Homo sapiens: one gene and its partners. The protein of the gene in region 4 purifies or fractionates together with the protein of the main gene of each other region. This does not show direct contact. Each region holds a gene or a part of one and is shown on either strand. Other genes may lie near its edges.

Region 1 (9,506 bases), on a different chromosome or scaffold from region 4:
ATGCCCATAATCCCAGCACTTTGGAAGGCCAAGGTGGTCAGATCACCTGAGCTCAGGAGCTTGAGACCAGCCTGGGCAGTACAGTGAAACCCCATCTCTACTAAAAATACAAAAATTAGCTGGGCGTGGTGGTGAGCACCTGTAGTCCCAGCTACTCAGGAAGCTGAAGCACAAGAATTGCTTGAACCCAGGAGGTGGAGGTTGCAGTGAACCAAGATCATGCCACTACACTCCAGCCTGGGTGACAGGGAGAGACTGTCTCAAAACACACACACACACACACACACACACACACACACACACACCAGCAAGAACAACAAAAGCAGGGAGAGACTGTCTCAAAACACACACACACACACCCCCAAGCAAGTACAACAAAAGCAAAAGCCAGATTCCTGGGTCTCACCCTACACCTATTGCATTAGAATCCCGGGGTTGGGCCTAGAATTTATTTTTTTAACTTCTCAAGTGATTGTGATGCAGAAAAGCCATATAGCAGTGTCCAGCAATTGTTCATCAACTATTGGCTGGAAGGACTAGAAATACCTACTCCATCTGACTCCAATTAGATTAGCAACAGTCAAGTAAAAAGCTGAAAAGCCTCCAAAATAACTCAAATTACACTACCTTTTTGGTGTTTTAACAAATCTCACCACTGAAAAGCTCATTCTTTTAACTTCACTAAATCCTCCTCTTTTAGTTACAGCCTCATTTTCTTTGATTTGGTCCTTAGTGAGCCCTGGAAACAGATCATCTGTTAGAATAGGTGATTATAGCGGAAAATGGAAATGCAGCGTAACAAAAGAAAAACAAATCGCTCCTGTGCGGCCAGCCATGAAGCCCAAGTTGGGTCACCCTGGGTGGCAGCTGGATACAACAGACTCAGCAGGCACCCTGCCCAAGGTCCACTCGGGTCTACACCTCTCATCACATAGCCCACTGTTCTGTGCAGGATCCTCCTGTTCTTTGTGAACATGTTTCCTGGTGAAGAAAAGTCAAATGCTACCCAGAGATATTTTCAGGTGGCATTTCCTGTTGTGATTAAACAGAATTATGAAATCTCAATGTTTTCAATTCACTGGACTTCTTCTAGACTTTGTGACTCTATCTGTGATAAGATTCTGCCTGGCCAAAGATATTCACTAATGCTTTGACCCCTCAATGGCATGGAGTTACTGATTCCCTAAGAATTATATTGCTATTTAGTCACAAAAATGTTAAAATCCTTTTCCTATCATGGTGGTTTTAAAACATGGCCCCTAATTCTTTGACAATCCTTTCATCATCTGGAAATGGGATTCTCCATATTGTGAACGTACTAAAATCCACTGAATTGTACACTTACAATAGTCAATTTAGGTTATATAATTTTTACCTCCATTTTTTTTTTTTTGAGACAGAGTCTCGCTCTGTCCCTGAGGCTGGAGTGCAGTGGCACAATCTCGGCTCACCGCAAGCTCCGCCTCCCGGGTTCATGCCATTCTCCTGCCTCAGCCTCTCGAATAGCTGGGACTACAGGCGCCCACCACCACGCCCGGCGAATTTTTTGTATTTTTAGTAGAGATGGGGTTTCACCATCTTAGCCAGGATGGTCTCAATCTCCTGACCTCATGATCCACCCGCCTTGGCCTCCCAAAGTGCTGGGATTACAGGCGTGAGCCACTGCGCCCAGCCACCTCAATTTTTTTTTTCTAAGTGACATTCTATATCTCCTTCCTTTGAATCTGGGCTCCATGACTGCTTGACCTGTAGAATATGGCAGACACGATGCTGTGATTTCTGAGCCTAAGCCTTAAGAAACTGGCAGCTGCTTCCATTTCCCATCTTCTAGGATGCTTACTCTTGGCAACCAGCCACCATAACATGAAGAAGTATAAGCAATCCTTCCATAGGTCACCCAGGGATGAACTGAGGTCCTGGGGCCAGAACCCCCAGCTGAGCTCCTAGCTGACAGCAAGCACCAACTTACCAGCCACGTGAGTGAGCCACCTTAAAAGCAGATCCTCCGGCCCCGTGCAGATCCACTTCAACCAAAGCTGTGTGGAACGAAGACAAGCTACACCCTTGCCAAGCCCAGCCTCAATCACAGACTCATAAGCAAAATAAATGCCTGGAGATGTTTAAACCATCACTAAATTCTATGATGGTCTGTTATGAGGCAAAAGGTAACTGGCGCTTCTATATAATCAAGAGTGGCTGGTAAAAAACAGCTTCAGAAAATCCTCTAACCTGGTACCCATATATCACAGTAGATTCTGGCAAGCATAATCTTGAGCACCGAAGACTTCATCCATACATGTTCTTCACAACTCAACTGAATCACAAACTTTCTAACGTGTTCACACCGTATCATGTCACTCAAAACCATGCTACAGACTGAAAAAGAAGGCAACTGACTTTCTTGTTAAGAAATTTTAAAAGGAAAAAAGGAGTAAAAAGCAAGAAAGCTACAGAGCATAAAATCTTGGAGGCATTCAAATAAAAATTATGGACAGCTGTCAATGTGCCTTCTTAGAAAAGATAATGTGCGGTGACATCTCCCCACTACCCTCCTACCCTGTCGAAGCGTCAGGGAGCCTGGGCTCAACTCCTCACCTCCAGCCTCTCTGGCAGGGGCTCATTCTGCAGGATCCTCAACGCTTTGGCAGCAGCATCGTGTTTCGCAGCCTGTCTTGTCTTTCCTTTGCCATTAAATTGCTGTCCTCCCACAGAAAGTTCCACTTGATAAAGTAAAGGTGGAACTGGAAATGGGTAAAAGTACCTAGAAATAAAAGGAGGTTAGGCAAATTACAGTCTCAAGTTGATAAGTCACCTATACACTCTCTGGCAAATGCAAGTATTTCCTTCATCACGATCCTACTCACATTAGTGTTTGATGCTAATCACTCTTCATCAATATATCCAGAGATTTCATAAAAGCTTAAACTGGATTAGAATTGCTACACAGTATAAGCAAAGAGTGTTTAGCAATCCAAACTTACATCTCACAAAATACAATGGCTTATAAATTATGAGTTTATCACACTAACCTGCACTGACAAAATCTAAAATGAATTAGGCTTTGGCTGAGACAAAAACTTGGCTTGCTCTGCCTTCTCAAACCTTAGCTTTAAATTTGCATGTCTCCAATAGGAGGCTGGGAATTTTAATGCACAAGTCTTTCAAAAGGACCCTCATTTCAAGAAATCCCAATAAGCTGTAGCCTACCTAGCAGAACCCAGTTTCTTATCCATTTCCCTAGCAGAACCCAGTTTCTTATCCATTTCATAGCTTATATTTTTAAAATGACTATCCCCCAACAGAGAGCAGGGAAATGAAGAATTCCATTTTGCTCATCATCTATCCACTAATGTCTTTTTTTTTTTTTTTTTTTTGTGAGATGGAGTTTCTCTTGTTGCCCAGGCTGGAGTGCAGTGGTGCGATCTCGGCTCACTGCAACCTCCGCTTCCTGGGTTCAAGCGATTCTCCTGCCTCAGCCTCCCGAGTAGCTGGGATTACAGGCACCTGCCACCATGCCTGTATTTTTAGTATTTTTAGTAGAGACAGGGTTTCACCATGTTGGCCAGGCTGGTCTCAAACTCCTGACCTCATGATCCGCCTGCCTTGGCCTCCCAAAGAGCTGGGATTACAGGCGTGAGCCACCACACCTGGCCTCCACTAATGTCTTATTACTGCCAGCAGAAGATTTTTAATCCATGGCATTTTCAGGTTTCAATTAATATTTTATTGCACCAAAGCTATTTACAAAACGCACAAGTTCAAAAGTCAAAAAGTACCCAATAATCAGGTAATCTACAAATGCTGGGAATCATTGTCTTGCAGGAATCATGATGCTATGGGAATCATGTTTAAATATGATTCAGTTACACAAAGCAGTTACAAGGGTTATCTTTAGCCAGGCTGCTTGAGGGCACAAGCCACACTGCCAGCAAGAAATATGCTCAGGCCCTACCCAAGAGCAGTAGTTAAAGAAGCACAAAGGAGCCGGGCGTGGTGGCTCATGCCTGTAATCCCAGCACTTTGGGAGGCCGAGGTGGGCGGATCATGAGGTCAGGAGATTGAGACTATCCTGGCTAACAAGGTGAAACCCCGTCTCTACTAAAAATACAAAAAATTAGCCGGGTGTGGTGGCAGGCGCCTGTAGTCCCAGCTACTTGGGAGGCTGAGGCAGGAGAATAGCATGAACCCGGGAGGCAGAGCTTGCAGTGAGCCGAGATCATGCCACTGCACTCCAGCCTGGGCAACAGAGCGAGACTCCGTCTCAGAAAAAAAAAAAAAAAAAGAAGCACAAAGGGCCGGGTGTGGTGGCTCACACTTTAATCCTAGCACTGCGGGAGGCCAAGACAGGAGGACTCCTTGAGCCCAGAAGTTCAAGACCAGTCTGGGCAACATACGGAGACCCTGTCTCAATGAATTAAAAAAAAAAAAAAGAGGCGCAGCCAGGTGTGGTGGCTCACGCCTGTAATCCCAGCACTTTGGGAGGCCAAGGTGGGCAGATCATCTGAGGTCCGGAGTTCAAGACCACCCCAGCCAACATGGCAAAACCCCGTCTCTACTAAAAAATACAAAAAAAAATCAGCCAGGCGTGGTGGCAGGTGCCTGTAATCCCAGCTATTCGGGAGGCTGAGACAGCCTCCTCACTTGAACCCAGGAGGCAGAGGATACAGTGAGCCGAGACTGCACCACTGCACTCCAGCCTGGGTGACAGAGCAAGACTCTGTCTCAAAAAAAAAAAAAAAAAAAAAAAAAAAAAAAAGAAAGAAAGAAAAAAAAGAAAAGGCGGGGGAGGGGCACAAAGGCACAAGAGTAATTAAGACCAACTTCAACACTTGGCAGGCCCAAACCAAATCATTACTCCCTCCACAATCTAGAGGTACTGGTTTATGTAAAAGATCAGACACGTTTTCTCCTGTATTTTACAAAAAAAAAAAAAAAAAAACACATACCTCGGGGGATAAGCACCTCCTCTCATGTTGTAGTTATAGGTGGACTGCATCCGAGAGTAAGGGTCAACAGGCTTATACATTGGTTTTTTTCCAAGTTTCATGCACAGTGCATTTAGTTCTACAGTAGGGGTTATGCTTTCTGCAAGAAAGAATCGACAAAGAACTGTTTTTTTCTGGTATGAGAATGATACTCACTAAAATAAAATGTAATAGCATGCTTTCTGCTAATTGGATTCATGATACTTTACATAAAAGGACCTGGGTGGCTCACTGCTAGGCATCAGACAAGGAAATCCAAGAATATGCTGTGATTTCTAGATATTTATACACAGTCGACAGCACAAAATCTACTCTGAGGGTTACCAGAGGAGCCACAATTTAACCCAAGACATTATCAGTGAAAGCTATATGGTACAGCTGTCAGAAATAAGTTCCAAAACACATCAAATTTCACGATTAAAAAATCCCATGTAAATGTCCAAATTGTTTTACTGTTTGAGAATACTTAATCAATATAACCTTGGTTGTACTGATTTACAGGATTATTGGCTTGCACTCAGAAGTATGTCCGTACACAGTATTGAACGATGCATTTATTACATTACTAACTGGATGCAAAGCACTGTGCTAAGCTTAAGAAACACAATTCCTGGCCAGGCGTGGTGGCTCACGCCTGTAATCCCAGCACTTTGGGAGGCCAAGGCAGGAGGATCACAAGGTCAGGGTATCGAGACCATCTTGGCTAACATGGTGAAACCCTATCTCTACTAAAAAATACAAAAAATTAGCCAGGCATGGTGGCGGGTGCCTGCAGTCCCAGCTACTCAGGAGGCTGAGGCAGAAGAATGGTGTGAACCTGGGAGGCGGACCTTGCAGTGAGGGTGGCTCACACCTGTAATCCCAGCACTTTGGAAGGCCGAGGCGGGTGGATCACCTGAGGTCAGGAGTTCGAGACCAGCCTGGCTAACACGGTGAAACCCCGTTTCTACTAAAAATACAAAAAATTAGCCAGGCATGGTGGCGCATGCCTGTAATCCCATCTACTCAGGAGGCTGAGGCAGGAGAATCGCCTGAACCCAGGAAGCAGAGGTTGCAGTGAGTCGAGATTGCGTCACTGTACTCCAGATGAGGAAACAAGAGCAAAACTCTGTCTTAAAAAAAAAAAAGAAACACAATTCCTGCCCCAGAGGAGTTCAAAAAACACAAAGCACACTCAAAGAGTTACAATACAACATGATGTGCAACTTAAAGGTGAAAAATCAGTGAGGAGGTGGCAACCCAATTCTCTTCACAGAAGTCACACAAGGCCCACAAAATATTCAGGTATTTCCATTCTTGACATTTCTAATGAATTTGACCTGTGGTCATACTTGCTACGAAAATGAGTTCCATTTTCATACACAACAAGTTATCTCAAAATTATCAACTTCAGAAAATACATGCTATTCATTTTCCAATTTTTTTTTCTTTCAGTTCATCCAATCCATAAACCTTTAAAAACCATTTAAAAAGAAAACCAGCCTGGAAAGATTAGTGTCAGTGCACAATATTTAAAAACAACACTTTCATATCAAAAACAGAACACTAGAAATGGCAAAATCTAAATGCACATAAAAATCCACTTTAAAATGCCTCTTTAGGATGTATATAGAGAGAAATAAAAAAGACCTGATTCTGTACTATAACTGGTTCAACTAAATTTAATGCATGAATCAAATCTATAAGAATATCTTTGGGGTTTGCACAGAGGGCCACATGAATTACAGATCTCTCTCTTCCTTGCATTAGAATTATATTTTTTACAAAATTCATATAATTGCATTTTAAGTACAGTCTGAATCATTTTAAGAGCAGCTCTGATCCACAGAATTTGTCTGCAATAGAGAATAAACATGAAGAAAGTATACTGCAAAGAAATCAAAAGTAACAAGAAAGATGTGACTGGTAACTTCCCAGATTCCTTCCTACATACGAAGACCTGGGATGACTTCATGCATGTGAGGGGGTCTCTGCTAAAACAGCCATTAATGACACAGCCTCCAGGTCACTGATCCCCAACCCTTCACCAGCCATGCCTTCTTGATTAGTATGCTCCCTGAATGGGCTCCTTGTCTGAGGAGATACTACCTGCTGGCTTGTATTTAAGTAATATTTACATTTTTCTCATTCTTTTTAATAACTAAGAGACATACAACTGGCAATAAGCACTTCTGACCAACAAAATTACAATCAATATTACCACACTGACTTGATGTGACTCTAAATTAAACTTATATTCTTGCTAATCTATACACTCTTATCAAAAATATATTTTCATTAAACTTCGGAAATCTTTGAAATTATCTGGTCACCCGCCATCCTTCCTATGACCGCCTTTCCAGATTGTCAGGCGTTAAGGCATCATAGATTGGAAACCACTGCTTTACAATGAGGTTAAGGATTCCTAAAAAATAAGCATTTGTCACTGGTAGTGTAGAATCTGTGCTTTCAAAATCAACAAGTTAAGAAACCATTCATATACATACTACATGGTACCTCTAGACACACTTTTGAAAGGTACCTGTTTGGCCCATGCATAAGACCTGGATTCCTTCCTTCGCTACCAAAAGGGCTGACTATGGGCTTAGGAAATTTTGTTCCCTCCAAAGCTTTAGCAGCAGCTGTGTGTTTGACCTTTTTAATACCAGTTCACTCAGCTCCCCATTGCTGATTTCCAAGTGTCAGCAGTACTGTAAATTCCTAGAAATGAAAAGTGTGAGCTCTCAAATTCATGAAACCTGACATTGACTGTAATATGTCACTTGAACCTTGAACACTTTCTATGGTCATGGTTTAAGAGGCCTGGTCTTATCTTGATAATTCATCCTGTCATCCCCTTCTTATCCTTTTTTGTTGTTTTTTATAAACAACAACAAAAAAAAGAGATTGTGTGTGTATGCACTGAAATTTTTTTTTTTTTTTAAGAGACACAGTCTCACTCTGTCCCCAGGTTAGAGTGCAGTGGTGTGATCTTGGCTCAATGCAACCTCCACCTCCTGGGTTCAAGAAATTCTCCTGCCTCAGTCTCCCGAGTAGCTGGGATTACAGGCACCTGCCACCATGCCCGGCTAATTTCTGTACTTTTAGTAGAGACAGGGTTTCACCATGTTGGCCAGGCTGGTCTCGAACTCCTGACCTCAAGTGATCCACCTGCCTCAGTCTCCCAAAGTGCTGGGATTACAGGCATGACCCACCACGTCCAGCCTCAAAATTCTCTTCCAATTACTTCTCATGAAAGATATTTTGCAAACTTGATTTAAACACACAGCAGTACTTCACACAAATTAAGACAATGTTTGTTTTGATGCTGCAATGTGTTTGTGGGCTCTTGTTTGAAAACATAACCACCCTTTTTTTCAGTTTTTGAAATGGGGTCTTGCTCTGCTGTCCAGGCTGGAGCTCAAATGGCACAATCATAGCTCACTGCAGCCTCCTGGGTTGAAATAATCCTCCCACCTCAACCTCCTGAGTAGCTGGGACTACAGGCACACACCACCATACTTGGCTAATTTTTTTTTTTTATTTTTTTGAGACAGTCTTGCTCTGTCGCCAGGCTGGAGTGTAGTGGCATGATCTCAGCTCACTGCAACCTCCGCCTCCCAGGTTCAAGCGATTCTCCTGCCTCAGCCTCCTGAGTAGCTGGGACTACAGGCATGCACCACCACGCCCAGCTAATTTTTGAATTTTTAGTAGGGATGGGGTTTCACCATGTTGGCCAGGATGGTCTTGGTCTCTTGACCTTGTGAACTGCCCGCCTTGGACTCTCAAAGTGCTGGGATTACAGGCGTGAGCCACCATGCCCGGCCCATACCTGGGTAATTTTTTAATTTTTGCGGAGGCAGGGTCTCCCTATGTTGCCTAGGCTGGTCTTAAACTCCTGGGCTCCAGTGATCCTCTCGCCTCAGCCTTCCAAAGTGATAGGATTTAAGGCATGAGCGTTTCTATTTTTATTAAGTTCTCAAAGTAATTCTGATGCACCCCAAAGATTTGAGATTCACTACTTTGGAATTTAACAAATCAATTGAAGCGGCCGGGTGTGGTGGCTCACAACTGTAATCCCAGCACTTTGGGAGGCAGAGGCGGGCAGATCACCTGAGGTCAGGAGTTCAAGACCCGCCTGGCCAACATGGTGAGACCCTGCCTCTACTAAAAATACAAAAATTAGCCACGTGTGGTAGTACGTGTCTGTAATCCCAGCTACTCAGGAGGCTGAGGCAAGAGAATCACTTGAACCCGGGAGGTTGCGGTTGCAGTGAGCCGAGAACACGCTATGGCACTCCAGCCTGGGTGATGACAGAGTAAAACTCCGTCTCAAAAAAAGAAAAAATTAATTGAAGCTTTTATTCTTCTGATGTAATCACTGAATATCACTTTATCTCACTTACAAATAATTTACAAGGGAAACCTGGATTTCAGTATGTCTAGGTCATTTAAATTTGGTGCCTTAAGGGGTGAGGCAACTTGCCTTCATAGCTGATTTTTCTTGTAGGTCTTACTTTTAGGATTCCCTCAGTGCACGGC
Region 2 (6,303 bases), on a different chromosome or scaffold from region 4:
ACTTTGTATTTCTAAGATTAGACTTTTTTCAGTGTTTTAAATCAGTTTTGCAAGAACTCAGATTCCAAGCCCTATATTTTATTAATTCCTACTCTTTTGCTAAAAGCTGAATGACTATCCATTTCTGTTATTTTCTCAGCTTAAGATGTGCCGTATCCAAAGCCAGTGGCTCTTTGCTAGCTTGTGTATTGTCGCTTTTCTCACAACTCATGGAGACCTCTACAGCACCAGCATTTCCTGGAAGCTCTGCCCATAATTAGTTTTGCAGAAGTGCAGCCATGTTACATCACTGCTCAGGAGGTCATGCAGTTGCACATTCTGTACTCTACTTTTATGAGAGAAAAGCACATGGCAGGAAGGCAAGCTGATATCAGGTATTTTATTTTTTTAAAGAAAGCAAGTTCCAGGGTATATATCTTGGGGTCATTATACATGTGGCCCAATGCAGTACACCTACAACTGTAGCACAGGCTATAATTAAATATATAGACTTTACAAAATACTCCAGTAATCAGAGTTGAAGGAAGTAAAATTTAATACTTTACTTACTTTTTTGCCTTTATTAAAGGCATTTAAGTTTTTTAGCGGATGTTAATGTTTACAAATGTCACCACAATACAGGTAATTTCCAATTTGAAGTGTAGTTGCTTGCAAAAGTATATCTGACAGACATTTTCAATGTATTTTCTAGAAGGAACACATTATATTTTGTTTTGAGACGGAGTCTCATTCTGTCGCCCAGGCTGGAGTGCAGTGGCACAGTCTTGGCTCATTGCAACCTCCGCCTCCCAGATTCAAGCAGTTCTCCTGCTTCAGCTTCCCGAGTAGCTGGGATTTCAGGTGCGTGCCACCATACCTGGCTAATTTTTGTATTTTAGTAAAGACGGAGTTTCACCATGTTGGCCAGGCTGGTCTCGAACTCCTGACCTCAAGTAATCCACCTGCCTCGGCCTCCAAAAGTGCTGGAATTACAGGCATGAGCCACCATGTCCAGCCAGAATACATTGTATAAGAAAATTGATTTCAATTATAATGTACCTGTGGTACTTAACTACCAAGGATTGGGAACTGTTTGACCATAATTTTTCCATCTGTTGGATAAGAGCTGAATCAGAATGTCATTCTAAGCTAATAGTGGCTATCATCCATGACCTAAAACGGACTCTTGTTAGGGGACTGAAGATTGGCAAAGGGAGAAGCTAGAGGCCATATAGAAGAGGAAAGCATGAAGGTAGAAACCACAATCAGGACTGCCTTCAAATATGAACTTCCAGGGATACTTCTTGGTTCTGGGTAGCTCCCCCACCACACTGTTTTCTTTTGCTGTCCTCAGGAATCAGCTTGCTTGTTTCGTTTCATTGCTATCATCTGTAGTTTCTAATGAGTTTTTCACTTTCTGTGATCTCTACAGAACAGATTTTACTTTTCTCTCTTCTCCCCTACATTTGTGTCTGTGAAGTATGCATGCTGGTGTTTTTACTACTTTTAAGGAAAGAGAAGTATTTAGAAACAAAAACGTATTTCATCTGTCTTTGCCACAAGGATTTTTTCCTCCCTAGTTACATTTTCACGGGAAAAACAAGTTGTACATAAGTGCATCTTACATTTCAGAGGAAAGTCAGACTGGAGTTATAGTGGACTTCTTATCATTAGTTAGGTAGAGGTAGAGGCAGCAGCCTGGTCTTAACAGGACTCTGCCTCTGTAGGGAGGGATGAGGAAACTAAAGACTACAGGAGTCAACTGCACTGGGGTACTGGGTTACAGGAAGGCTAGTGATCTTGCTAACCTAGAAGACTAGAAAGTAGAGGAAATTCATATGCCCTTTTCCTGAGTTTGAAAAGGCTTTGTTCTTTCATCTCACAGGGAGACTTCAGCACAAATGATAGAAGAAAATTTGAACTGCCTTGGCCATTTAAGCACTATTATTCATGAGGCAAATGAGGAACAGGGCAATAGTATGATGGTAAGTTTTGTGTGGATATGGGTGCCTGCTTTGGCTATGTTGGGTGCAAAAGGTTTAACTTTCCATGCTAGCCTTATCTGGCATTTGGGATGCATATGGGAAATAGAAGAACTCAAGAGGAAAGAGCATTTGGGGAATATCCTCAACCTTAAATCCTTATCTGCCGTTACTCAGGGATATACTAGGATTATGTCATCAATTATCTTCAATAATAGCATTTTTGGTCAAATTAAATGAGTGGTAAGCTTCTTCACAATGTGACCATTGAAATTGAATGGTTTGTTCTGTACCTTTTTGCTTCAGCAATCAATTTTCTCCATTAAGATGGGACTTGTACTTTAATTCAGATATGGTACCTCCCGAATAGAAAATAAATTATGTTAATATAGTTGTAATAATAAGTGTGTGTTAAGATTTGGTTACTATAAACTACTGATTTGTTAAAACTTGAGGAAATTACCATAAAATGTCTACTGAATCAATTTTTCCTGCATTTAGTCTTAATGTCAATTCTGTACATTTCCTCTTTCATTAAGAAAAATAGCAGTGGCCAGGCATGGTGGCTCACGCCTGTAATCCTAGCACTTTGGGAGGCCAAGGCAGGTGGATTGCTTGAGCCCAGGAGTTTGAGACTAGCCTGGCCAACATGGGAAACCCTGTCTTTATAAAAAATATAAAAATTGGCCAGGTGTGGTGGCACACACCTGTGGTCCCAGCTACTTGGGAGGCTGAGGCAGGAAGATCGCTTGAGTTCAAGAGTTTCAGGCTGCAGTGAGCCGTAATCCTGCCATTGCACTCCAGCCTGTGACAGAGTGAGACTTTGTCTCGGGGAAAAAAAAAAAAAAAAAGGATAATGGTGGCCAGCCATATGACATGTACCTGTAGTCCGAGTTACTAGGGAGGCTGAGGCAGAAGGATTGCATGAGCCCAGGAGTTCAAGGCTGCAGTGCATTATGATTGGACTTGTGAATAGCCACTGTACTCCAGCTTGGCAACATAGCAAGATCCTGCTCTCTTAAGAAAAAAAAAAAAAAGAAAAGAAAAGGAAAGAATAATTGTTTACTTCAAATATTTATGAAAAAAACTCTGAAATTTTTTTAAATCAGGAAATAAGGTAAATGAAATGATTTTTCAACTTTTGATTATGAAATGTCCAAACAGAAAACTTGCAAAAATGAACACCCATATACTTATAACTTATAGTCAACATCTAATTGTAACTTTTTCATGCCTGGTTTTAGAATCTTGATTGGAGTTGGTTAACAGAATGAGTTGTCACTTGTTCACTGTCCCCAAACCTATGGAAGTTGTTGCTATACATGTTGGAAATGTGTTTTTCCCCCATGAAACCATTCTTCAGACATCAGTCAATGGAAGAAATGGCTATGAACAGAAACTACATTTCTACTATGATCAGAAGAACATGATTTTACAAGTATAACAGTTTTGAGTAATTCAAGCCTCTAAACAGACAGGAATTTAGAAAAAGTCAATGTACTTGTTTGAATATTTGTTTTAATACCACAGCTATTTAGAAGCATCATCACGACACATTTGCCTTCAGTCTTGGTAAAACATTACTTATTTAACTGATTAAAAATACCTTCTATGTATTAGTGTCAACTTTTAACTTTTGGGCGTAAGACCAAATGTAGTTTTGTATACAGAGAAGAAAACCTCAAGTAATAGGCATTTTAAGTAAAAGTCTACCTGTGTTTTTTTCTAAAAAGGCTGCTCACAAGTTCTATTTCTTGAAGAATAAATTCTACCTCCTTGTGTTGCACTGAACAGGTTCTCTTCCTGGCATCATAAGGAGTTGGTGTAATCATTTTAAATTCCACTGAAAATTTAACAGTATCCCCTTCTCATCGAAGGGATTGTGTATCTGTGCTTCTAATATTAGTTGGCTTTCATAAATCATGTTGTTGTGTGTATATGTATTTAAGATGTACATTTAATAATATCAAAGAGAAGATGCCTGTTAATTTATAATGTATTTGAAAATTACATGTTTTTTCATTTGTAAAAATGAGTCATTTGTTTAAACAATCTTTCATGTCTTGTCATACAAATTTATAAAGGTCTGCACTCCTTTATCTGTAATTGTAATTCCAAAATCCAAAAAGCTCTGAAAACAAGGTTTCCATAAGCTTGGTGACAAAATTCATTTGCTTGCAATCTAATCTGAACTGACCTTGAATCTTTTTATCCCATTTAGTGTGAATATTCCTTTATTTTGCTGCTTGATGATGAGAGGGAGGGCTGCTGCCACAGACTGTGGTGAGGGCTGGTTAATGTAGTATGGTATATGCACAAAACTACTTTTCTAAAATCTAAAATTTCATAATTCTGAAACAACTTGCCCCAAGGGTTTCAGAGAAAGGACTGTGGACCTCTATCATCTGCTAAGTAATTTAGAAGATATTATTTGTCTTAAAAAATGTGAAATGCTTTTATATTCTAATAGTTTTTCACTTTGTGTATTAAATGGTTTTTAAATTACTTTCTTGATCTCTATTCATTATAAAAATCAGATTATAATAAAACAGTTGAATATGGCTTAGGAAAATATGAAGGTTCCATGAAGTGGAATTAAGAGCATAGAATAACTGTACTTTCCTTAGGAATAATAGGACTTATGGTAAAGGTAGTATTGGGCAACTTCTTTAAGAGTGTTTTCCTCTGAGATGTCCTATCACCACTATCTACATCTAAAAAACATGCTCGATTCTTGCCCTATAAACTGATGTCACAGCCCCACCATCCCCATTTTTGCTAGTGGTATCATTTTCCTAGTCAACCAAATTTTTTAGTCATCACATATCACTGTTCGTCATCTATTATAATAGGCAGTCTCTCTCTTGTTTCCCTGGTTTTAGAAGATTTTAGTAATAAACATTTATTGGGTACCTGTTACTTGGAGGGTATTAAGCTAGATGGCAAGATCTGAAACAACATAGGCAGTATAGTAAAAGTGCTTATCTGGGAGTCTGAACATTACAAGCCATCCAAGCATTGCAATTATTGTTAAGGATTATTTTCAATGGTCATGCATTTTCTAATATTTTAATAATTGGTTAAAGATTTGTTATAGCGTGGGGGCCGCTGCTGGTGTGTGGCTGGGGTTATGTCAGGGCAGCCTGATCTATATAATTTGGGCAGATGGTGTGAGTCAGAACAGACTATTATAGTGGGATCCCCAAACTTGCTTTTGATGCATGAGTTGGACCACTATTTTTTGGTGGGTAACAACTTTTCAGAGGGGAATGGCAGTTGTGAATTGTATACATTTCATTCTTTAAGCAATATTATGAAAAACTTCAGAGAATGTCTACAGAAAACAGGGTATGGAGCAAGTTATTTTCCATTCTTTTTGCTTTTTGGAAGTTAAAATAGCTAAGCTCTGCAAATATCATTTATTTGGAACAGATAAGGTCCCAGACATTCCTAGATAATAAAAATCAAATGAATGATACAGGTAAGTGTATTTATTGAAGGGTGTGGGTAGAGTGGTCTGGGAAGTCTTGCTTTAATGAAGACGGATTGATTCTATTTACCTCTTCTTACTTCCACTACTAAGTAACCCTGGGCCTGCAGTTTCCTAACCACTTGACTTCCTTGCCAACAGTCTGTCTCCACTTTCAGCCGTTTTATAGATTCATTGGCCCTAAAGCACTGCTTTCCCATACTTCCCTACCCAAGAGGGCAGGGGTCCCCAAGCCCTGGGCCGCGGACCGGAACCAGACAGTGGCCTGTTAGGAACCAAGCCGGATAGCAGGAGGTGAGCGGCGGGCGAGTGAGCATTATCGCCTTGAGCTCTGCCTGCTGTCAGATTAGCGAGTGGCATCAGATTCTCATAGGCACGCGAACCCTATTGTGAACTGCACATGTGAGGTTTGCCGGCTCCCTGTGAGAATCTAATGCCTGATGATCTGAAGTGGAACAGTTTCATCCCCAACCCACACACACCCCCACCCCGTCCGCTGGGTTAGAGGACTTTACAACCCTAGTCCACCTTGTCCAGTTATAGTTCCACCTCTAGCCTTTCAAGGCTTAAACCATTAATGTCCTTAATTTCTCTTGTATTCATCTATCTCCCAACTATACCTTTTTCCTTCCCTTTTTTATTTTTGGCAATATGTGCCCATGGTTTTTTAATTTAAAACGAACAGAATATGTAGTGACGCCTACCATAGCACTCCTTCCCATCACACAAGCCTTCAAGGAAACTGAAGTACTTACTTTGGTCTCCCTGGAGGATTCCCTCCGCCTCCCGCCCCATGTGCTTAGCAATTCTGTTCCTGTAGTCTGGATGGCCTTCATAAAGCCCTCACTGGAC
Region 3 (6,574 bases), on a different chromosome or scaffold from region 4:
AATAAAACTTAAAAACAGTGCCTGCGAAATTCTAAAATTCTAAGGAGGAAATTCCTATCAGCCCAAATTAAAGGCAATTTCAGAAATGCAAGGAGATAAAAAGTTTACCTCTCATCTTCCCTTTCTTAGTAAGATACCAAAAAATGGTACACAGCAAAAGAAGGCATATGCTAAGATGGGAAAACATGGGATTCTGGAAATAATGGTGCCAACTTAAACGGTCTAGAAAAAAGGTGACAGTTGTGTGGCATAACTAGGTTGTAGGAGAAAAATTATAAAGTGGGTAAAATGACAAAGCATCTGGAAAGAACTAAGAATATAGAAGGAAAATTAGGCAAGCAGAAGAATGTAAGGTGAAGGTTAACTGGAGGAAAAACCAAAAGCTGTACCACAAAGAAAATCACGGTGGCTCACACCTGTAAAATATGGGCATTGAGCTTTACAGGGATTGATCGTAATATAACTATTTAGAAGGATGAGACAAAGGAAATGAGAAGGTGTCAGTTAAATCATTATTTATCATAAAATGAAGGCAATTTGAACTCAATGTCTAAATTATCAATAGATAGCAATGGAAAGTAACTTCTCAATCTTTTAGTCTAGACTATTTAACCAAAGGTATGTGTTCCTTTAATAATTTTTCTTTAGTTTATTGAAAGAAATGTTTACAACATGACACCAACAGAAGGGATCAAAGTGTGTCGTGAAATTGCGAGTCTTCATTCCTTTTTCTTGGTTCTTTGTATTCAAAGATGCTATTTAGTGTGTTCTGTTCTTCATCTTCTCTCTTGTTCGTTTTCCAGGTCTCTTCTACAGAAAAAGACATACCACATCTGGTCACATAGCAGCTTGCCTTCTGCCCCAGGGTGAGGACGAACAGAACTGAAGGGAGAGGGCAGGGTTGGGAGTGGGAGGGGAGGCTGAGCCTGCTCCTCACCCGGGCACCTGGGCTCACTTACATTTGACCCTTTCTTGCCAGGCCTCTTGAGGCCTCTGCCATGAGCTGTCTTGGCCCGGAAGCTAGATACATCATCATAGCTCTCCCGAGTGTTCCACTTTGAGCCTTTCTTCTTTCCACCAAAACCAAACTTCTGGTTTTTATACCGTCGTTTAGCACTGGGCCTGGAAAAGAATGGTCCTAGACATCACTACAGCACTGTAAAGCCTGATGAACCTGATGGCCCAGCAATGCTCTCAGTTTCCTTTCTATAAGCAAAGCCCCTTAGGCACGTCTGTAACCCAGAATCTCATCCTTGGCCCCACAATCCTATGCTACAGCCTCTCTAGACAAACTCATCTAGCTCACCTATTTACAGTTTTGACCACCAGGGCAGGAAAATAAAGCAAGAAGCAGGGAAGGCTCTACATATATTACATGGCTTCCTGCTGTCTTTAGAAAGCTTTCTATTTTAACCAAATCTTATTAAATCACCCTCAGTTGTGTCTATTCCTCTCAAGGGTAAATACATGCAGTTAACATCCAAATGTAATATGTTACATTTGTAACATTCAAATGTAATGTAATGAATACGTTCAAATGTAAACATTCAAATGTAATTATAGGCATTCAAATAACATTCAAATGGAATAACATTCAAATGTAAAACTGGTCATCCAATAGGAATCTTGAATTCAGCATCTCCAAATTCACATCATCTCCTGGACTGGCTCTGCTTCCTGTACATATGCCCTCACTTGAGGCTGGCGCTGCTCCCACCAACCCAGACACACAGGCTAAACATGTGGGAGTCAGCCTTGGTTCTTCTCTCACTCTTTATACCCAATTCAATTACTGAGTCCTGCTCATTTCACCTCTTAAATGTTTCTTCAATCCTTATCTCGACTTTTGCAATAGTACCCTTGTCAATTTCCCAGCTTCCCTCAAGTCTGTCACTTATACAAAATCCACTGTGATCTTTTTAAAAACATGAATATAACCTGCTCATTACTGTTAGTACAACCTACAACCTAGTCTCTCCACTGCCTTCTGACAAAGCCCAAGCTCCTCAACAAGGCAAACCCACAGCCCAGGTCCCCCCAAACACATTGCACCCCTCCTTGCTTTGCACTGTATTCCCAGTGACACCAAGGGCTTACTGTTCCTCACAAAACCCTGAGGTTTCACATCTCGATGGCTTTGCTCGTTCAAGCTCTTACTTCTTCCCAAACCCAGCTTCTCTTCTATTCTCGTGGTTAATTCCTACTCATGCTTCAAGCAATGCTCAAGTCGAACGCTCCTCCAGAAATCCACCCCAGACCCTGTCAGGTATTTATAAAAGCTGACTCAGTACTAATCCCCAAATGCCTCTATCATAGCACTTACTATCTTACATGGAAATTATCATTTCCCCTAGGCCTGGTATCCAGGTATGCAAAAAAGCAGACTAGAAAAAACAATGAGAGCCCACATTCTCTCTTTCAGTCTTCATACTATGAGGCAGACACTATTTCCTCAACTTAGCAGATGAGGCAATTAGCATTTAGAAAGGCATGGTAACTCGTTCAAAACTGCCCTCCTACTGAGTGGTAGAGTCGGGATCTGAACCCTAGGTCTGAACTCTCAACCATCGCACTGTGTGATGGGGAATCAACTTTACTCAGCATTCACTTAAAGGGTGCCACATACTTAAAAGTACCTTCTTAGGATGGGTGCAGTGGTTCACACCTATAATCCCAGCACTTTGGGAGGCTGAGGTGAGTGAATCACTTGAGGCCAGGAGTTCACAACCAGCCTGGCCAACATGGTGAAACCCTGTCTCTACTACAAATACAAAAATTAGCTGGGTGTGATGGCAGGCACCTGTAGTTCCAGCTACTCAGGAGGCTGAGGCACAGAATTACTTGAGCCCAGGTGGCAGAGGTTGCAGTGAGCCAAGACTGTACCAGTGCACTGTAGCCTGAGTGACAGAATGAGACTGTCCAAAAAAAAAAGAAGTTTAAAAAGTGCCTTCTTTTACTCTTCAAAGACTGACATGGCTAAAAGGGCCCATCACACAGTCATAGGGGTCCTGGCCCCAGGCAGCAGCTGCACTCTCTGGACTCTATGGCTGCGCCGGTGGAGGTGCTATGTCTGCCATACTCGTGACCTGTGGCCCCATCGCACCTCACAGAACCAAAGAAACCATGCCAAAACCCTTCTCACCCCTTCCTCATCTGCTGGCCTTTGGCTCCTGCCTTCTTGCGCTGTGCCAGAGGTTTCTGATCTCCCTCAAGGAAATCCAGTTTATCAGAGAAGCCTGTAAGTGAAGAAGTAGTTTTGATCAGCACCATTGTATTTTAAGAATAAAAGTTTAAACCACCATATGAGGCTGTTATTTGCTACACTGATTTTAAGAGTCACATCCTGCTCTCCAACACCATTCCCAAAACTTTGATCCGACAGGTCCACATCAACCAAGAAGGCTCCAAAGCACTAAGTGTTCAAATCAACTCTAAAGTACCTGCTACCCTCGTTCCCCTATTAGAGATGTACCAACCTTTCTGATATTTCTTAATAGCATTCATCATATGGGCTTTCTCCTGCTGCCTCTTCTGAAGAACCTCCGTTTGCACCTGTGATATGAACACAAGGACCGTTACAGCCATTCCATACCATTACTCCAGTGTCTACATTGTCTTAATAGCAACACCATGATTAATACCACTACCCTCTGACATTTACTACGTGCCAAAAACTGTGTTAGGGACTCTAAGTATATTCTCAGATCTAGGTATATTCTTCATAGATGAAGATATATCTGTCTCATAACAATCCAGTGAAGTTGAAATTTGTGTTATCCCCTAAACTGAAGCACAGGGAAGTTAACTTGCCCAAGTCGCACAGTGAAAAAATGCACAGCCAAGATGACCCAGGCTGTTTGACTCCAAAGCCAGCACTCACCCTATTATACAATCCTGCCTACAAAACTGAAGTAAATCATGTTTAAGACTACATCGATTTTTCGCATCACATTTGGACAGATTAATTATCTAACTCACTGTTACTAGGCATGAAAGTACCAAAAGGAAGAGAAAAAAACAATGTCCCCAGGTAAAGAAAAGAAAAAAGTTTGAAGGATAAAAGGAGACACTTTATAATACTCTAACAGAGGGTTTCTCAATCTTGATACTGCTACAGTGTGGAGAGAATAATTCTTTGCTGGGGGGTAGGGGCCTGTCCTACACTGTAGGATATTTAGCGGCACCCCTGCCCTCTACCTACTAGATGCCAGTAGTACCCTCCCTCCCAAATTTGACAACTAAAAATATCTCCAGGCAGTCACAGAAAACTCTTGGGGAGCAAATTCACCCCCAGTTAACAAACTCTTCCCCAGTGTTTCCTTAAATTAGGAACAGTGAACTAATAGGCCCAAGTGAGTTTGTCTTTGCTTTTGGTAACTTTGGCTATGTTAAATTAATTACTGGTGTCTTTGAGAGAATCTCAGCCATCCACCTCCAGATCAAAGAAATAATAAATCCGCAGCAGGCCTTTTGTAGAGGACAGGATCCCAGCCTATTCCTACTTTGCTGAGAATGTATCAGTGAAATGACTCCAAACGTGGACAAGAGTTCTGCAGCCCAGATCACAAGTGCTTATGTCCAAATGTTGACGAAGTCTTAACACCCACACCAATCTTCCTCACATTCATTTCTTCCCACAATCCTAACTTTAAAATCTGTCATCTTCTTTCTTAGATGACCATGAAATAAAAAAGGAAAACCAAGAAAAGTTTTAGGGTATGCCTGATCTGGTGTTACATTAGAACTCAGACATTCATAGTTCAAACACGCAGGCAATCTTTCAGATTGGATGACAATCATTATGATAATTTCTTCAGGTACGTGATTATCACATAGATCAGTGAATCCCAAACCAGGATGCATTTCAGAATCACCTGGAAAGCTTTTGGGGAAGAGGGGAAAACAGGCACAGATTCCTGGGGATTCTGAAGTCTAGAATTCTGTTTTGAAAAATTTCCCCTGGTGATTTTGCTATAAGGTCAGGTTTGGAAACCACTCATCTGGACCCAGTGTACAGATGTGAAAACTAACGCCCAGAGAGGTGATTGGCTCACCTGCAGTCACCATACTACTCCTGGGGAACCACTCATGTCCAGGCAAGATTGTGCTCATGAATACCAGCACATACACTGAGAGACGGTAAATACATGATCAACACACAGTTCCGTTCAGTTCAGGGGACCAAGTCAGACCACGGCAATCTCATCTAACACACACTCCGCCTCTTCCTGTTCCCTGCACACTTTTCTTCTCACCTTCTTCCCGTATTTCCTAAGTGCTCGCAGTTGCTTAGCTTTTTCAGACCTCTCCATGGCAGCCTGTTTAGTCTGCAGCTTCTGTCGAATCTACAACACAAAATGCTGTCAGTTCATGTCATTTGAATCTGGAATGACCACTACTTAGGATTCGCTAGAGCAGGGAACAGATATTCCCTGTTCTTTAAACTGCGGAACTTATAAATCATCAGTTCCAACCCCTGAGGACAATGGGGCCCACAGGCTGAGCACTTTACCAAAAGTGCCAGAGTGAAGCCAGAGATTGAAAGTCACCTTCCCGCTCCCAGTGTGCTGTCTGTTTCATTATACAAACTGCCTATTTGTAGCCCAGGAAAGAAGACAAACTTCTCCCCATTTCTACTGTCAGTAGACTGAGGCTGGAAACCAGTATGCGGCCTCAGTGTCCTTTTCTAGTATACCACATACACAATAAAAACCCAGGCAGATACCAGGTGCCTAGCCTTTTCAGTCAAACATACACATTTTAGTTAAAGGATGAGAAGTTGTCAGTGAGAATTTGTACAGAGTTCACAGTAAGAAGGTGAACTACTACCACGACAAAAGCTCCCTAAAATCCAGCTTGAGACCCCAGGGTACTATTTAAATATACTTATCCCTCAGTATCCATAGAGGATTAGTTCTAGGACCCACTACAGATATCAAAATCCACAGATGCTCAAGTCCTTTATATAAAAATGGTGCAGCATTTGCATATAACCTACACTCGCCTCCAGTATCCTTTAAAGTCAGAGGACCTCAACTCCCAGGCCACAGACCGCTACGAACCCACTATGAATCTGTGGCCTGTTAGGAACCAGGCCGCACAGCAGAAAGTGAGTGACAGGCAAGCAAGCATTACCACCTGAGCTCCACCTCCTGTCAGATTGGTGGTGGCGTTAAATTCTCATAGGAGTGCGAACTCTACTGTGAACTATGCATGGAACTATGCATGCAAAGGATCTAGGTTGCCTGCTCCTTATGAGAATCTAATGCCTGATGATCTGAGATGGAACGGTTTCATCCCAAAACTATCCCCTCCCCAAGTTCATGAAAAAATTGTCATCCACGAAACTAGTCTCTAGTGCCAGACCGCTTCTTTAAATAGTCTCTAGATTACTTATAATACCGAATACAATGCTATGCATCACCTCATTCTCATGGATTCAATGTAGTTCTCGGCACACGGAAAATTCAGTTTTCCTTTTGCAATATTTTCAAATTTTTTTCCCCAATATTTTTGATCCAAGGTTGGTTGAATCCACAGATGCTGAACCCATGGCTATGGAGGGCTGAATGTA
Region 4 (9,506 bases):
TTTGCTTTAAAGTGACATGCAAATTCATGAAATGCTCCGTATTTTAAAAACCGTGGCACCAGATAGAACCTATCATTACCCACAAAATAGGTGATCTTTGAGATGTTCTAGTCTTACCTTCTTATTTTATAGATGAGGAAACTAAGATCCAGAGATGTGAAGTGATTTTGTCTAAGATAAAAGCTAGATGGTAATTGTTCTCTGGTTGTCTGTTATTGTATAAGGCACTGCTCCAAAATGCAGTGCTTAAAAACAGCAATTTATTGTTGTCTCTAATGGTTCCATGGGTTGATTGTGCTCATCTGGACAATTCTCACTTGGGGTCTCAGAGGGATTTGCAGTCAGTAGTCATCTGAAACCTTGACTACAGCCTATCTTAGGCTGGATATCCAAGCTGGCTAGCAGTTGACACCGGCTGTGGGCTGGAAGTTCAGCTGGGACTGTCAATCAGAATACCTCCACATGGCCTCCCTATGGGGATTGGGCTTCTTACAACTTGGTGGCTGGGTTTCAAGAAGGATTGTCCCCAGAACAAGTCATCCAAAAGATCAGGAGTGAGTGGCAAGGCTTCTTTTGACCTAATCTGAGGAGTTCCAGAACGTCACTACCATCAAGTTATATTGGTTAAACAAGTCACTGAAGCCAGCTTAGATTCAAGGGGAGGCCAAATAGGCCCTACCCCGTAATTTGTCATTCTAGGGGATGAGTTCTAAGAATATTATTTAGGGACTGGGTGTGGTGGCTCACGCCTGTAATCCCAGCACTTTGGGAGGCCGTGGCAGGCGGATCACCTGAGGTCAGGAGTTCGAGACCAGCCTCACCAACATGGAGAAACCCCTCTCTACTGAAAATACAAAATTAGCTGGGTGTGATGGCGCATGCCTGTAATCTCAGCTTCTCGAGAGGCTGAGTCAGAAGAATTGCTTGAACCCGGGAGGCGGAGCTTGTGGTGAGCCCAGATCATGCCATTGCACTCCAGCCTGGGCAACAAAAGCGAAACTCCCTCTCAAAAAAAAATAAAAATAAAAATAATAAAAAGAATACTATTTAGGGAGGCTGAGGTGAGTGGATCACTTGAGCCCAGGAGTTTGAGACTAGCCTGGGGCAACATGGCAAAACTCCACCTCTACAAAAAATACAGTAATTAGGCCGGTGTGGTAGCCACGCCTGTAGTCTCAGCTACTTCAGAAGCTGAGGTGGGAGGACCATTTGAGCCCAGTAGGTGGAGGCTGCAGTGAGCCATGGTCACACCACTGCACTACAGCCTGGGTGACAGAGTGAGACCCTATCTCCAAAAAAAAAAAAAGAATGTTATTCAAATTATGGATTTATATCCAAGAAGATATAAATCACAGTGTCATTCATTAACAGTAAAAAGTTAGAACAAACAAAATATCCAGCAGTAAAGAAATGAGTATATATATTTTGTTCTGTCCCCTGATCGATGGCTGTTTTGCAGCCATTAAAAATGACTGGCTGGGCCAGGCATGGTGGCTCACGCCTGTAATCCCAGCACTTTGGGAGGCCAAGACAGGCAGATCACGAGGTCAAGAGACTGAGGCCATCTGGCCAACATGGTGAAACTCTGTCTCTACTAAAAATACAAAAATTAGCTGGGCATGGCAGCGTACGCCTGTAGTCCCAGCTACTTGGGAGGCTGAGGCAGGAGAATCGCTTGAACCCAGGAGGCGGAGGTTGCAGTGAGCCAAGATCGCGCCATTGCACTCCAGCCTGGGCGACAAAGCAAGACTCTTCTCAAAAAAAATGACTGGCTGGGTGCAGTGGCTCAGGCCTGTAATCCTACCACTTTGAGAGGCCAAGGCTGGTGGATCACTTGAGGTCAGGAGTGCGAGACCAACCTGGGCAACATGGAGAAACCCTGTCTCTACAAAAAATATAAAAACTAGCCAAGTGTGGTGGTGTGTGCCTGTGGTCCTAGCTACTAGGGAGGCTGAGGTAGGAGGATCGCTTGAGCCCTAGGGGTGGAGGTTGCAGTGAGCCAACATTGCCACTGCACTCCAGCCTGGGTGACAGAGTGAGACCCTGTCTCAAAAAAAAAAGGAAGAATCTAAAATAACATTATTTTAGGATTGTCAAAGTATCAGTAATTTTTTTTATTTTTGCAAATTTGTGTCATATACTTTAAAACTTCTTGCATTAAAAAATAAAATTGTAAAATGATTATTCTTCCTCATCTTTGAAATCTCCAATTTATTTACTGCACTTAGCATGGAATTTTCTTAGGTCTTGGCAACACATCCCTGTAAAGCCTTCCACCATTTCACCTTCTCTGCATAAGTTATCCTCTTTGTGTATATTTGCCACACATTGAAAATCCTGAATTAGGTACTTCACACTGCCTGGGTTACCTAGCCTTGCTGCCTAAATGTGGTTTGCTTGTGAAATACAAAGATTTTAACACAAATCTAAGCAAAACATAATGTATGATTTAGCTATGAAAAATTGCACTGGCTGGGTCCATTGGCTCATGCTTGCAATCCCAGCACTTTGGGAGGCTGAGGCAGGTGGATTGCTAGATCCCAGGAGTTTGAGACCAGCATGGGCAGCGTGGCAAAACCCCATCTCTACAGAAAATAGAAAAAATTAGATGGGTGTGGTGGTGTGCTCCTGTGGTCCCAGCTACTCAGGAGACTGAGGTGGGAGAATTGTTTGAGGCTAGAAGGTTGAGGCTGCAATGAGCCAAGATTGTGCCACTGCACTCCAACCTGGGTGACAGAGCAAGACTCTGTCTCAATAAAATAAATAAATTAATTAAAATGACATCACTGGCATTTCAAGAGTACTACAGATGATTTTTAAATTGTCTGATGCTTGGCATTAAGTCGCTGCCTTTTATTTATTTATTTTTTGAGACAGAGTCTTGCTCTTTTGCCCAGGCTGGAGTGCAGTGGTGCAATCTTGGCTCACTGCAACCTCCGCCTCCTGGATTCAAGCGATTCTCCTGCCTCAGCCTCCCAAGTAGCTGGGATTACAGACATGCGCCACTGTGCCCAGCTAAATTTTTTGTATTTTTAGTAGAGATGGGGTTTCACCATGTTGGTCAGGCTGGTCTTGAACTCCTGACCTCGTGATCCGCCCACCTTCGCCTCCCAAAGTGCTGGGATTACAGGCCTGAGCCACCGCGCCCGGCCACTGCCTTTTATTTTATCTTGAGAGTGAGAACTGCTATGTTTTTTTTCAGTATGTTCACTTTTTCCTTTTGAATGTCCTGGCTTCCATTCTAAAACTATGTGAGAACCACAGCAATGGTTTAATAAGGGAATGTAGACAGTTGTCTATTACATGAGGTGTTTTGTGGTTGTTATGAGGGATGTACACTGACACTGCCATGTTCCCTGTTCCTTTTAACTAGGAAGGCGGAGCGTGAAGTAAAAGCATTGGCAAAACTTGATCATGTAAATATTGTTCACTACAATGGCTGTTGGGATGGATTTGATTATGATCCTGAGACCAGTGATGATTCTCTTGAGAGCAGTGATTATGATCCTGAGAACAGCAAAAATAGTTCAAGGTAACTAAAAATAAATTCTCATAGCCATAATAGGATGGAAGGAAATTGTTATTTACTATGTATGGGCCACTGGATAAGGCTATTAATCATCACGATTAATTATCACAATTCCCTCTGAGAGACACTGTTATCTCTCCATTCCGAAGGTAAGGAGAAAGTGAAAATCTCTTCCTTGCTCCTCCTCTTGCTGCAGACTTGCTCTCACAACCCTCTGTTACATCCTCAGCTGTCTGCAAAATCTCAGGTTCAGCTTTCCTGACTCCATTGTTTCATGGAGAGCCTTGTTCACGTGCCGGCTTCAGCGCAGGCTGTTTAAGTGTAGTCTTGTGAAGAGAGTTTTAACATATAGATGCTGCATCTGGGGGCTCCCTCCTCAGCTACCAACACTTTTCTGTCCCTCTCTTAGGCTGTGATTGGTGTGGTGCCGTCAGAGGGTCTCTTTGGAATGTAACTATACCACTTATGCTGGGGTGGTGGGGAGTGAAAATATTTTTAAGACCACAAGCTGAGATGGGGGCACCCTCATGTTTTATGTCAGTTAAGCCATTGCCAAACAACTGGAGATCCTAAAGAGCTGGCATCTGTCTTTGAAAGTCACCCAACCTATTATGGGGACAGTCCTCTCACTAAAATCCTGAGGCCAATGGGGTCCCATTCATTCATTTTCTCCTGCCCCACCTCCATCTCCATGTCGTGTAAGTGAGAACATTATCATCAGTTCAGGAGTTATTGACCGTCAGCATACAGGACTTCAGCTTTCAGCAAATTCTTGGCTACCTCTTCCTGTTTTCAAGCTGACATATATACAAAGAATATAAATGAATATTGAGGCTAACTTAATTCAGAAAAAAAATAAAACGTGGTTAGCAAAAAAAAAAAAAAAAAAAATCAAGCCTCCAATTTATGTATCTTAGTAATTTGTTGGCACTTCTCTTAGAGTACCTTCCCTATTGTTTTAGGTTTGCTTTCCCTTTACTCTCTCCTATTAGACTATTATCCCCGTGACGGCAAGGATATAGTGTCTAACTGATTTTCTCATCTCTAGGTGCCTTTCATGCTTAGTAGATCAATGGTGAATTAAAAGGTTTCAAAGTTACTTTATATAATAATGAAATTTAGTTTCCTGCATTGTATTCATGTTCCTATTTCTATCTGTTAGCAATGGTGATTGCAGATCTTCAGCAATGAAGAATGGGTGGCTCATTTTTTTTTTCTTCTCGTTTTTTTTTTTTTTTTTTTTTTTGAGACGGTGTCTCGCACTGTCGCACAGGCTGGAGTGCAGTGGTGCAATCTTGGCTCACTGCAAGCTCTGCCTCCCGGATTCACAGTATTCTCCTGCCTCAGTCTCCTGAGTAGCTGGGACTACAGGCGCCCGCCACCACGCCCGGCTAATTTTTTGTATTTTTAGTAGAGACGGGATTTCACCGTGTTAGCCAGGATGGTCTTGATCTCCTGACCTCGTGATCCACCCGCCTCGGCCTCCCAAAGTGCTGGGATTACATGCGTGAGCCACCGCGCCCGGCCTCTTCTTTTTTTTTTTTTGAGACAGAGTCTTACTCTATCGCTCATGCGGGAGCACAATGGCGTGATCTCAGCTTACTGCAATCTCTGCCTTCTGGGTTCAAATGATTCTCGTGCCTCATCCTCCCGAGTAGCTGAGACTACAGGTGCCGCGCCACCACACCCAGCTAATTTTTGTGTTTTTAGTAGAGATGGGGTTTCGCCATGCTGCCCAGGCTGGTCTCAAACTCCTGAGCTCAAGCAATCCGCCAGTCTCGGCCTCCCAAGGTGCTAGGATTATAGGCGTGAGCCACCGTGCCCAGCCCAGCTCATATTTTATAAATTAGCTAAACAAATAAAGCTCTGGACATCCGGGAACTTATGATTGAAATAAAAAATGGCCTATTATATTTTGATTCAAATTTGTTTATTATATTTAGATTTCTATTTTGTGACATGTTTTGGGGTTCTTTTTTTTTCTTTTTTTTTTTTTTTTTGTGAGACGGAATCTCGCTCTGTCACCCAGGCTGGAGTGCAGTGGCGTGATCTCGGCTCACTGCAAGCTCCGCCTACCGGGTTCACGCCATTCTCTTGCCTCAGCCTCCCCGGAGTAGCTGGGACTACAGGCGCCCGCCACCACGCCTGGCTAATTTTTTGTATTTTTAGTAGAGACGGGGTTTCACCGTGGTCTCGATCTCCTGACCTCGTGATCCGCCCGCCTCGGCCTCCCAAAGTGTTTTTGGGGTTCTTAAGAAGATAAGGTATAAGCTTTTAAAAAGTTATGAAAAACTTTAAAAAGTTATAAAAAATTTTTTATAAATTTATATTTATTGTTACTTTTAACATACTGTGAATTTTATACCCAGGTCAAAGACTAAGTGCCTTTTCATCCAAATGGAATTCTGTGATAAAGGGACCTTGGAACAATGGATTGAAAAAAGAAGAGGCGAGAAACTAGACAAAGTTTTGGCTTTGGAACTCTTTGAACAAATAACAAAAGGGGTGGATTATATACATTCAAAAAAATTAATTCATAGAGATCTTAAGGTAAGTGGAAAATGTACTTTATTAATTGATATATATATAATATAGTAATTTTAAAATATATCTTCTCAGCTGGGCACAGTGGCTCACGCCTATAATCTCAACACTTTGGGAGGCTGAGGCAGGCAGATCATCTGAGGTCATGAGTTCGAAACCAGTCTGGCCAACATGGTGAAACCGTGTCTCTACTAAAAATACAAAAATTAGCTGGGCATGGTGGCGTGCGCCTGTAATCCCAGCTACTCGGGAGGCTGAGGCAGGAGATTCGCTTGAACCTGGGAGGTGGAGGTTGCAGTGAGCCAAGATTGTGCCACTGCACTCCAGCCTAGGTGAAGAGTGAGACTTGTCTCAAAAAAAAAAATTATATATATATATAAAATAAGATAGATAGATATATATTTTTTTCTCTAGTTTTAGAATAGTGGTTGATTGATAGTTATGAGAAAATGGTATCTGAACATTTCCATGCAAATAATTACTGTGACTGGCACAGCCAACTGGCTGCTCTGCCCCTGTTCCTCCTGCCTCCTCTAAGTGACTCAGCTTTATTTGAGAGGCAGAGGGGACTCTGTTGACTGTTGCTTTAGGAATATGGTTCCCTAATCTCTCAGTCATTACTCGCGAGGGCTGTCACAGCTACTGGGTCCAGAGTCTAATACTGTCTTGGTTAAGCATTTCAACCCCATGATTGGAAAATTGCGGTAATCCCGGACTGGGAAAGTGTATCATCCCTTAGTATTTTCATTTTCCTCTGGCTTTTATGGTCCGGACAAGGAGTTTCCCTATTTTTTACTTCTCATTAAAATGACAGAAGGTGAGAGACAGAATAGCCCTTCACAGCCTTTCCTCCATTCCCTATTCCCTGTGACTTGCCTAAGCCTGTCACAAGCTGGCCGTCCTGAATCCTGTCCCTGGACCTTTGCTCATGTTCTTCTCTCTCATGGGACACTCTTCTGCCTGCCCCCTTTGGTTGTAATTCCTTTACTGAGCCTTTCCTGATCACTCTGGAACTGCCTTTTTCTGTTCTAGGCAGAAGTACCTTATTTATGTGGCTATCTGCTTATCCCACCCCTCTAAAACAGCAAGGAATAAGGAATGAAACAAAAAAATTCCTTGAGAGAAATAAGTTCCCATATACACAGTTGTTTATTGGGCTCAGAGAGGAATGAGTAGCCCTTAAAAGGTATTGCTTCCGTGGTCTGCCCAGGGGCTGGATGTCTGATGCATTGGTGTTTTGAGTCTGTCTGGTTCCAATATGTCTCTTCTACAATATCTGAAGTTGTTCTTTGAAGGTGGAACATTGTCAGAACTATTTCAAAAGGATAAATGTAGAGTTGGTTATGCTTTCACTTTGGGATAAATCATACATATAGTTAAATAACAAATAAGCACAATTATTTCTATATAAAATAATTTGCAAATAAATGCAGAAGTGTAGGCATTAAGCTCCTAGTCCTCAGAATGAATTAGCAAAATTCTGACTGGTGCCTACCCACTTACCTGCCAACTATGCCCCACACCGTGTGTGCCCTGTGTCATGGACTGATCTTTTCTTGTGTCTATTTGCAGAGAATTTTTACTCTGGCTGCAGTTGCTCAAGGGTCAGACTTTATTATTCTTCTTAAATTTTTAATTTTTATTTTTTTTTGAGACAAGGTCTTGCTCTTTTGCCCAGGCTGGAGTGCAGTGGCACAATCACGGCTCATTACAGCCTTGACCTCCTGGGCTCAAGCAGTCCTCCCACCTCAGCCTCCCGTATAGCTGGGACCACAGGTGTACACCACCACACCTGGCCATTTTTGTGTGTTTTTTTTTTGTAGAGACAGGGTCTCACCATGTTTCCGAGGCTGGTCTCAAACTTTTAGACTCAAAGTGATCCTCCTGCCTCAGCCTCCCAAAGTGCTGGCATTCCAGGTGTGCTCCACTGCACCCGGCCTCAAGCTTTGATACTGAGACTTCTTTCATCTTCTATAACTTTTCAGGCTCTCACTACTACAGTTGTTGATTTCTCTCCTCTAAGAAAAGATACAATGAAGGTGTACAATTTTGGGGTTGTGTTTTGCAAAATAGCAGCTGTAGGTGGTTTTGCCAGAGAATGGTCTTTACCTAACACAGCCCCTCTTACAAAAGTCTCCAAGTGTTTACCACTTTCTGTTGGAATCTTAGGAACTAGACCAAAGGCGCTGGGAAGGGACATAGGGGTTTCTGGAGTGAGGGCTTCTTGTGCAAGGCTGCTTCTCTCTAAAATGTTCAGTCTCCTAAAGCCCAGGCTCTGGTCATCCTCAGCCTGAGCATCAGTCCTGTTCCTGTGCCTCCTAGGTGAAGTTTGCATCCCTTTTATATGATCTACAGCCCTATATTTTGTCTAATCATATTATAACTGATTAGACAAAATGTGGCATTATTGTTTTTATTTCTTTTGTGTTTTACAAGGTCTCACTCTGTTGCCCAGGCTGGAGTGCAGTTGTATGATCTCAGCTCACTGCAGCCTGGACCTCCTAGGCTCAAGCAATCCTCCCACCTCGGCCCCCCACATAGCTGGGACTACAGGTGCAGGCTACCAAGGCAGGCTAATTTTTGACATTTTGTGGAGACAGGATTTTGCCATGTTGCCCTGGTTGGTCTCGAACTCCTGAGCTCAAGTGATCTGCCGACCTTGGCTTCCCAAAGTGTTGGGATTACAGGCATGAGCCACCATACCCAGCTTCTTTTTCTTTTCTTTTTTTCTTTTTTCTTTTTTTTTTTTTTTTGAGACAGAGTCTCCTCTGTTGCCCAGGCTGGAGTGCAGTGGAGTGATCTCGGCTCACTGCAGCCTCTGACTCCTGGGTTCACGAGATTCTCCTGCGTCAGCCTCTCGAGTATCTGGGATTACAGGCGCCTGCCATGATGCCCAGATAATTTTTTGTATTTTTAGTAGAGACAGGGTTTCACCATGTTGGCAAGGTTGGCCTTGGACTGATGGGCCCACGCTGTCTGCCCGCTTCAGCCTCCCAAAGTGCTGGGATTACAGGTGTGACTCACCACGCCCTGCCCACTTTTTCTTTTGAATGAACTACAAAAAGTGATCTGATATTTTCACTAGATAGCCTCATCCAGCTTAGATATTTACACGGCTTCACAAATTCAATTTTCTGTTTCTTAGAGTCAGGTGATAGCCTTATGTGGGACTAGCAGTTTCACTTGCAATCCTGACATATTCCTACACATTGCAACTTGAACATAGCATAGGAATGTTTTCTCTCCACATCCACTCCACATCTGTCTACAGCTTTCCATCTGTATTACTGGTGTTAGGCTCCAATCTGACTGTTAATTGAATTCTAATCCAACTGCTAATTGCTGTATGAGCCGTCATCTCAAGCTGGCTTCTCGGAAGCTCCTCCTTCAGCCTTCCCTGGGCTTATGGTCTCTTCCCTCTTAGGTCCTTACT

What was found.
Region 1: the proteins of EIF2AK2 (region 4) and STAU1 purify together in Homo sapiens (affinity purification with mass spectrometry; 4 studies listed by BioGRID and IntAct, with this or other methods). This does not show direct contact.
Region 2: the proteins of EIF2AK2 (region 4) and CHUK purify together in Homo sapiens (affinity purification with western blotting; 3 studies listed by BioGRID). This does not show direct contact.
Region 3: the proteins of EIF2AK2 (region 4) and EBNA1BP2 purify together in Homo sapiens (affinity purification with mass spectrometry; 2 studies listed by BioGRID and IntAct, with this or other methods). This does not show direct contact.

What each region holds. Positions count from the first base shown.
Region 1 is NC_000020.11:49,148,987-49,158,492, forward strand, and holds part of STAU1 (double-stranded RNA-binding protein Staufen homolog 1), read right to left. Parts: coding exon of another isoform or gene 9,451-9,506; intron 5,086-9,450; coding exon 4,947-5,085; intron 2,762-4,946; coding exon 2,596-2,761; intron 1-2,595. UniProt on the Homo sapiens protein: Binds double-stranded RNA (regardless of the sequence) and tubulin.
Region 2 is NC_000010.11:100,186,530-100,192,832, reverse strand, and holds the end of CHUK (inhibitor of nuclear factor kappa-B kinase subunit alpha), read left to right. Parts: intron 1-139; exon of another isoform or gene 140-374; intron 375-691; exon of another isoform or gene 692-840; intron 841-1,864; coding exon 1,865-1,964; intron 1,965-3,205; coding exon 3,206-3,235; 3' UTR 3,236-3,324; coding exon of another isoform or gene 3,325-3,405; 3' UTR 3,406-4,533; downstream 4,534-6,303.
Region 3 is NC_000001.11:43,163,684-43,170,257, forward strand, and holds the end of EBNA1BP2 (probable rRNA-processing protein EBP2), read right to left. Parts: intron 5,346-6,574; coding exon 5,256-5,345; intron 3,553-5,255; coding exon 3,477-3,552; intron 3,237-3,476; coding exon 3,143-3,236; intron 1,123-3,142; coding exon 960-1,122; intron 811-959; coding exon 760-810; 3' UTR 501-759; downstream 1-500. UniProt on the Homo sapiens protein: Required for the processing of the 27S pre-rRNA.
Region 4 is NC_000002.12:37,116,532-37,126,037, reverse strand, and holds part of EIF2AK2 (interferon-induced, double-stranded RNA-activated protein kinase), read left to right. Parts: intron 1-3,373; coding exon 3,374-3,532; intron 3,533-5,898; coding exon 5,899-6,079; intron 6,080-9,506.